2 linked regions of the Homo sapiens genome follow. The protein of the gene in region 1 interacts with the protein of each later gene in a pairwise test. Each region holds a gene or a part of one and is shown in the gene's direction. Other genes may lie near its edges.

Region 1 (4,118 bases):
GTTGATGGAAGTTGGAGGAGCCAAGAGAAGAGTTCCCTGCCCACTCAGGGAGAGGATTGGGAGAGAAGGGCTGGAGACTCGGGACCAGCCTCTCTACCCCCTCATTTTCCCTCGCTCTGTGTGTGCCTGTGGCCCTGACCCTGAGAGGCAGGAGGGGAAGGTGTAGTGCTAGCCAGGCTCCCTGCTACTCATACGTGCTGGAGTCCAATAACTATTTGATGAACGAAGAACAAATCAATACCTTTCTATTTAGATTTCGTCACATCATGTTTCTGTGACTTTGCCCTCTGGTCCAGGAAACACTGTTTTATCCAAGAGGAGCCTTGGGCCAGGGTCACAGGTCAGGGAATTTTCAGGCTTCAGCCCAGAACAGGAATGACTTGTTCCAAAGAAAATCAAGACTAATAAAGATTTCACAAAATATCTACAAAACAGAACGTTACGTCCATTTCATTCACTGTCACAGTGTAATATCCCTAAAAACTATCATAATATTTTAAAGCAATTTGGAGTTTACATTTTCTCTCTGCGGGGTTTCCTAATAATACACAACGAATGCCAAGAAATCAAAGCCAGTTGTAAACTAAATGTAATGAACTTGTAGCCAAATCATCTCAAAGACAAAGTTATAAAAAATAATTTCTAAAAAGTGCCCAGCATAAAATTATAGATAATATGGGCACATTTTACTATTATGCTGGTACCCCTATATATTCCAATATTCTTAAAATGGTGTTCAGCAAAGGCGATGATTCTATCTCCAAGTTAGTTCATTCCTTTAACAGTTTCATTTCAGCCTGTGTAACTGCTTTAGGTGGGGTGGAGGATCTAACGAAAAGGTCTATTTCGTTGTCAGGTAAAATTCTGCGTGGTTTTACGTAACTTTCCTGGCATAGATAGTGAAATAGTATATCTGGTGGGAAACCTCTAAGGATAGAGGATCTGGGCCTATAAATGACCTGAACCAAAGTTGTTTTTGTTTGTGACTGTTCACTTCCAAAAACAGACCAAAAAAGCTATGCAGATGTGGGTTATGTCAATCCTCCATCAATAACATTTAACAGATGCTTCCGAATGCCTGCTCCAAGCTCCTGACACTACTGGATGTGCTGTCTTTCTGTCCTTCACCGTCCCATTGCCAGGGACACAAGGGCCAGGCTTTTGGTCCATGCCCAGGGCGTTTGTCCACACCAGATTCCTTCGCTGCATCTTTTTTTTTAAACACCAACCAGAGCCCGGCGGATTGATGCACACTGTGGAAGACACGCAGAAGCCCAAGTAAGTCCCTGGCCCTGGAGCATTTGCGGTGTGCTCAGTGACGAAGGGGCGGAAATTCTTGTCATGTTAAATCCATGGCTCTCAGCACACTTCTCAATTCCAGAATCGCCCACAACGATTTTCAAAATTGAAAAGGAACTGGGATTTGTGCCTTGAGAGGGTCCCCAAACCTTGGAGCCACTCAGGGTGCTGGCTTTTGGCTACACATTCCCACCAAGAGATTTCATTCTTGCAATTTTCAAGGCCAAACATCTCTTAATCAGCGAATCATTCCTCAAAGGGCTGGAGGCGTTCCCAGCCCTGACCAGTTCCCTCAGCCACCCTCAGGTGCTGCCTTCACTTCCAGCAGAACTCTCCCTAGCCCTCCTGGACATCGCTGTCAAGCAAGTGTCTTGACCTTCCAAGAAAGTCACCTTCTTCCGTCAGCACTGGTTTCACAGTATGCCATGTCTCTTATCTCCAACTTGTAGCAAATTGTCCCTCTTTCCACACTGTGCTCCTTGACCCGTCCAGCTCCACATTCCACCAACAGACCATCCGAATCACCCACAGCTGCAGCTGTAGAAAAAAGCAAACAAACAAAAGCAGTTGCTCGTTGATCAGAATCGACCAGCATGCATCTAGGGCCCATAGCAGCCTAAAGGCTGAGAAGCTGAGTTACTCAATAGCAGAAAAGTCCAAAGCAGTGTGAGGACAACCGCCAGGTGGTGGCTCAGAGGAGGACACAGTCGCTGTGGGCAGGTGGTCAGGGCGCAGGAGGGAATGAGCTGTGGATTTTTAGTAATCTACAACAATCAGGCAGTTCCAGGACACAGGGAAGTGAGTGTGAACAGCCAATGGACCCGGAGCCGAGAGCCTGGGCAGGCGTAGGCTGGACTATGGACGCCCTGCAACCCTGCCAGGCTGGGAAGGGGAGGCTTGATCCTGAGCGCGTGTTAGGAAGGAGATGCCCAGGTTCAGGTGTATCGTGCATTTTTTTTCCACAGTGCAGAAATGACATTTCTGGTTGGTCTTGAATGTCTGCTCTGGCCAAGCCACCTCCTCTCATGCTAGCTAACCAAGTGGCACGTGTGCCCACGCAGGCCATTCTAAGGAACACTGTAATTGTCTAGACAATTTTCTCTCAAATACTCCGTCCTGGAAGCGTCTGGTTGGCAGAAGAGGGAAGGCAGGAGGGTGGCAGCGTCCCGGCTGAGTCCTCTTGCACATGGGAGCTGGAGTCCAGCCAGGCTCCAGAGCGGCTCCGGCTGGCAAGGGACCTGAACAGGAAGATGAGACTCGAGGTTTTCTGCATGTGAGTTTGGGGTGAAGCTGTGGATGTGGGGTGGGCGGGCTGGGGTTGACAGTCATCTGTTTTGGAAGCCCTTAGGCCCTGCCGGTTAGATGTGCATGCAGCCAGGGGTCCGAGCGTTCTCCAGAGGAAGGGACCGTGCTGGCCCCTACAGGAAAGGAAGCTGCAGGCTGGTCTGGGTGGCCTCCAGAGGACCCCACGCAGCTGGCATGAGGGCAGCCAGGCTCCTAATGAGCCAGGAACGACAATAATCCAGTTCCTGAGTGTTTGGGCAGAACTCTTTTCATCGCTTACCAGGCCTGTTTGGGAGGAAGGACTGAATCTGTTCAGTGTTTTGAGGCCACAGCTCAGCTCGGGGAGCTCAGCGCCACTGCCCCCTTCTGTCTGCTGGGACTCCCTCGTTTTTCTGCAAAGAGGGCCAGGCAGACTGTTCCGAGTTTCCAGACTTGGGAACATTCTCCTGCTCCCTAAATACACCCCTGCCCTCCAACACAGACACATATTGGCATGGCAGGAGAGGGGGGGAAGTGATAGATCTCTCTCAATGAGGGTAAAAAATGGTGCTGAAGAGGAGAAATGCCATGCAATTTGAGACGTGAGTTAATCCTTCAGTTACCTGGGGCCCCACATCCCCAACAGCTGCCACGGCTTCCCAGGATGGGCAGGAGGGACCCAGGCAAAATAGAAAAGGAACCAGGATTAGTGTCCTGAGACCGTCCCCAAACCTTGGAGTGCTGTCCTCACTGGCTTTAACTGGGTGCTGGCTTTAATTCCCGCAGTGTTCAAAGCCAAACATCTCTTGATCACTGGGTTTCATTTTTGAAGTCTTGGGAAACCAGAGGACAGTTCATCATCGTGTGCTTCCAGGGGCTGGGCCCAGGTCTGCTGTGAAAAGATGCTGTCATCTGAGCTCAGCGTTCATGCCCGTGTCTCTCAGTCACTCACTGGAGTTGGGGACGGGCTTATCTGTTAGGATGATAAAACTTCCATAGCATACGCCTTGCATTTGCTGGTATCTGTCCCAAAGGGCTTGTCAGTTTTTACATATATTATCTCAGCATCTTCTAGATGTCTCTGCAGAGGAGCTATTCCTATGTAGACAGTCATTCCTGTGTAGACAGTGAGTAATAGGCTGAGCAGCTTGCCCAAGATTAGTCAGAATTGAAGCCAGCGCCAGCCCCCATCCTTATCTGGCTCCAATCTGATTTGCATATCTCAAGCTTACTGTGTTTTATTTACCCATCTGTATAAAGGGTTCAATGCTTCTTAAGACATCTACAGAAAAATCTATAAAAAGGAAGACACGTAGATTCTTCCTTTGGTGCTATGAAAATGTCACTATTAAATATTTCCTGTTTTCCAGTTAGTTTTTAGTTTTTAGGTAAAGATCAATAAAATGGAATATGTCCATTATTGTTTTTAAAAAAATCATTCTGTTGCCTATATATCAGAAAAGATCTTTCATTACGCAGAGTAAGAAGTCTAAAAGTCTGTTTTCAAGGCTAGTGCCAATGTGTTTTTAAAACGCAGGTGGCCAGCCTTGCCAGTT
Region 2 (3,600 bases), on another chromosome or scaffold:
CTGGCATGGTGGTGGGTGCCTGCAGTCCCAGCTACTCGGGAGGCTGAGGCGGGAGAATGGCGTGAACCCGGGAGGTGGAGCTTGCAGTGAGCCGAGATGGCGCCACGGCACTCCAGCCTGGGAGACAGAAAGAGACTCCGTCTCAAAAAAAAAAAGAAATAAAAAAAAAATCTGCTTGTTGGAGAAGCTGCATCCTGAGCTGTTTCTCTGGCAACAGGTAGTTCCACTGGGTCTGAAATGGGATATGTGGGGGTTAATCCAACAGGCACCACCATCTGCTGGGAAGCCATGGTAGCTCCCATCTATCAGGCCAGCACTAGGCTCAGGCCCTTTGCCAAGGCCTTTAGATCTTCTTAGTCGGCCCCATTTTAGGTGAGAAAACTGAGGCTCAGAGGCCAGTTCTTTGCCCAAGATCTCACAGCCCTCCTCCACAGGAGTGATTTTTCTGACTTTTCTGGCCTATGGTCTTAATGACCACGTGTGGCTTTGCTGCTACCTTCCCAGGATCTGTCATTATGGAGGGAGTGGTGGGGACCCTGGGCCCACAGCCTGCTTTCCAGGAGCTCTTGGTCAGTGAGAGAGGTGCCCAGAGGATGTGCTTCTCCCAGAGGGATCAGAGAAGGCTGCATGGAGCAGGAAATAAATGAGAAAATGGAAGCTAATTCTCCATCAAACCCTTCTGTTTCCCAGGATTTGATGAATGTTCCTGGTATGGTGGGAGGAAGGGGAGGTGGGTAGAAAGGCTCCCAGCTCCTGGAGAAGGAGATACACTTTTCATTCGGTATCAGAATGTGTCCTGAAGAACCAATCTCAGTATTCTTCACAGATGTCTGGTGGTGTTCATTGATTTATCACTATCGTTATTCCTTGTAGATTCAGAAAGAACACCAGATGGAATATGATATTAAACCACATAAGACAGAAGAGTTAAAGCGATGTATCTTTAAAAGCTGGTGGTGTGGAGGGGAGAATTGACTTGCAGCAAGTTTAAGGCTGTTGATTATTTGTTGAACTTCCTAGCAGCCTAGGCAAAAAGGGAAACATGAAGAATCTATGCAGATAGCGTCTAAAAAAGGAGGCAGGTCTTTGTTTTGTTTTGTTTTGTTTTCTCTTGCCAATGGATTCATGTCACAAGGCAGGCAAGTTTGATCTACAGATAACTCTTTTGGTTTTAAAAAAAAAAGGCATCAGTGCTACAGATTTTTGTGTAGCTCAGGTGGAAGAATGCAGAAGGCGTGGTTATTTGCTTATGGGGAGCTCCCAAAGCCTTTTTACAATAAGTATAAAGTAGTGCTGTTAGGTGCCCATCTCTCATTTTTTCAAGCCTCCCCAAGCCGTGGGGAGAAGGATGATCTTATCTGGATTTACTGATAAGTAAATAGGCTCCGAGAGGGTGAGGAACTTGTCCAAGGTCACACAGGATAGAGTGGCAAGCTTGGCTTTGCACTTCGATCTGGAAATCCAAAACCTGGCTCTAGCTATGCTTCCTCATCTTGTTTACTTTGGGGGTGGGAAGTTCTAGAGTGCTTTCTAGGGGGAAAAGGGGGACTGCAGGAAGGGAGACTCATCAGGGGCCAAGGCCATCAGGGAGGGCTTCCTGGCATAGGAAGGGAGAAGGAGGATCAGGACAGACCAGAGCTTGTACAGAGACCTGTCAGTCAGTAGGCGTCCTTGAGGCCCAGGATGTGGAAGCTGTGTGAATGCCCTGTGGCGGTAAGGCCATTTGGTTTGGTACCTTCTGTCCTTCCATTTTGCCCCACCTCCTGGGATTGGGGGTGGCCACACAATTCCCACTTTGCAGGTGAATAACAGATCAAAAGCCTCACCTAGCTAGGCAGGTGGCAGGGTGGCACATGCCTGTAGTTCCAGCTACTTGGGAGGCTGAGGTAGGAAGATTGCTTGAGCCTTGGAGTTTAAGGCTGCAGTAAGCCATGATCACGTCACTGCACTCTAGCCTGGGTGACAGAGTAAGACCCCTACTTTTTTTTTTTTTTCCTCGAGACAAGGTCTTGCTCTGTCACCCAGGCTGGACTATAGTAGTGTGATCACAGCTCACTGCAACCTCAACCTCCCAGGCTCAGACGATCCTCCCACTTCAGGCCTCCTGAGTATCTGGGACGACAGGTACATGCCACAATGCCTGGCTAAGTTTTTATATTTTTTGTAAAGATGGGATTTCATCATGTTACCCAGACTGGTCTCGAACTCCTGGGCTCCAGCAATCCACCTGCCTTGGCCTCCCAAAGTGCTGAGATTACAGGTGTGAGCCACTGTACCCAGTCCTCTACTCTTAACAAAAAAAAAAAAAAAGGAAGAAGAAGAAGAGAAGCCTTCCCTAGATCTCCATGATCCATGGGGTGGCATGGAGAGTGCTGATGGGAACACAGGCCTGGACGCTGAGAGCCTTGGGTTCAAATCCTGGCTCTGTCCCTTTCTGGCTGCATGATCCTGGGGGAGTTCCCAAATTTCCCTGAGCCTCACTTCCTTGTCTGTCAGATGGTGATGGCAGGATCTAGATCATGCCTGCAAAGAGCTAGCCTAGCACTATATGTGGGAATGAAGGACAGTTTGGATTCACAGGGTTATAGGATCCGAGGGTTCTTATGCAAGCATAAGAGGTGCCTTTGCAGCATCTCCAACATGAACTTGCATGCTTCCAGAGACAGGGAGCTCAGTTCTTCTTAAGGCTGCCTGCTCCATCCTTGGGCACTTGGGAGTGTTGGAAAGTTCTTCCTTATGGTGATACCGGCTCTGTCTCCGGCCCCAGGAGGCAGACCAGCTCCTCTGCAGATGAAGGGCAGGGCAGGGACTGAAAGCCAACTCTGGTCTCCAGGAAGGGGCTACCTAGATGAGATTGTTGGAGTCCGAGTGAGGTGTGAGCAGGGCTTGGTCACACTCGGATTGCAATGTCTGAGACTCCCGGGGCTTCCCTTAGCACTGAGATTTGTGGGTGGTTCAGTCTTTTTAGTACAGCATTCCAGGCCCCGCATGCCCAATATCTTCATCCAACCCAGCTCCACTGCACAGAGCAATAAATGCCTTGTATTGTTAGTTCCCCCCACACTCCCCACTTACTGCAAGGGGGGGAGTATTGAGTGTTTGGGAATTAATGTGTAATTACATTATGAATATATGAATACATTCTCCTCACAAAATAAAAAAACCTGTACAGATTACACTAAAGCTGTAGTTGGATTACCCACCTCTGTCCCTAAGGGGACAACTATTTGGGGTGTTTCTAGTCTTTTTTCCTGTGCACTTTTGAAAACATTGATAGTTTTATTCTGTATCCTTTGTTCAGCAAGTTGCTTTTCTCATACTTGGTGCATCTGAGAGCTCTTCTTGTGCTCTGTCATCCAGGCTGGAGTGCAGCGGCGTAATCTCAGCTCACTGCAACCTCCGCCTCCCGGGTTCACGCCATTCTCCTGCCTCAGCCTCCCGAATAGCTGGGACTACAGGTGCCTGCCACTACACCCAACTCATTATTGTATTTTTAGTAGAGACGGGGCTTCACCATGTTGGCCAGGCTGGTCTTGAACTCTTGACCTCAGGTGATCTGCCTGTCTCTGCCTCCCAAAGTGCTGGGATTACAGGCATGAG

Evidence for each region.
Region 2: the proteins of CLDN14 (region 1) and PLLP interact in binary tests that used the Homo sapiens proteins (3 or more experiments, as listed by UniProt).

Annotation. Positions count from the first base shown.
Region 1 is NC_000021.9:36,477,949-36,482,066, reverse strand, and holds the start of CLDN14 (claudin-14), read left to right. Parts: upstream 1-1,944; 5' UTR 1,945-2,572; exon of another isoform or gene 2,573-4,118.
Region 2 is NC_000016.10:57,278,073-57,281,672, reverse strand, and holds part of PLLP (plasmolipin), read left to right. Parts: intron 1-3,600. UniProt on the Homo sapiens protein: Main component of the myelin sheath that plays an important role in myelin membrane biogenesis and myelination. Plays an essential function in apical endocytosis. Regulates epithelial development through the regulation of apical endocytosis.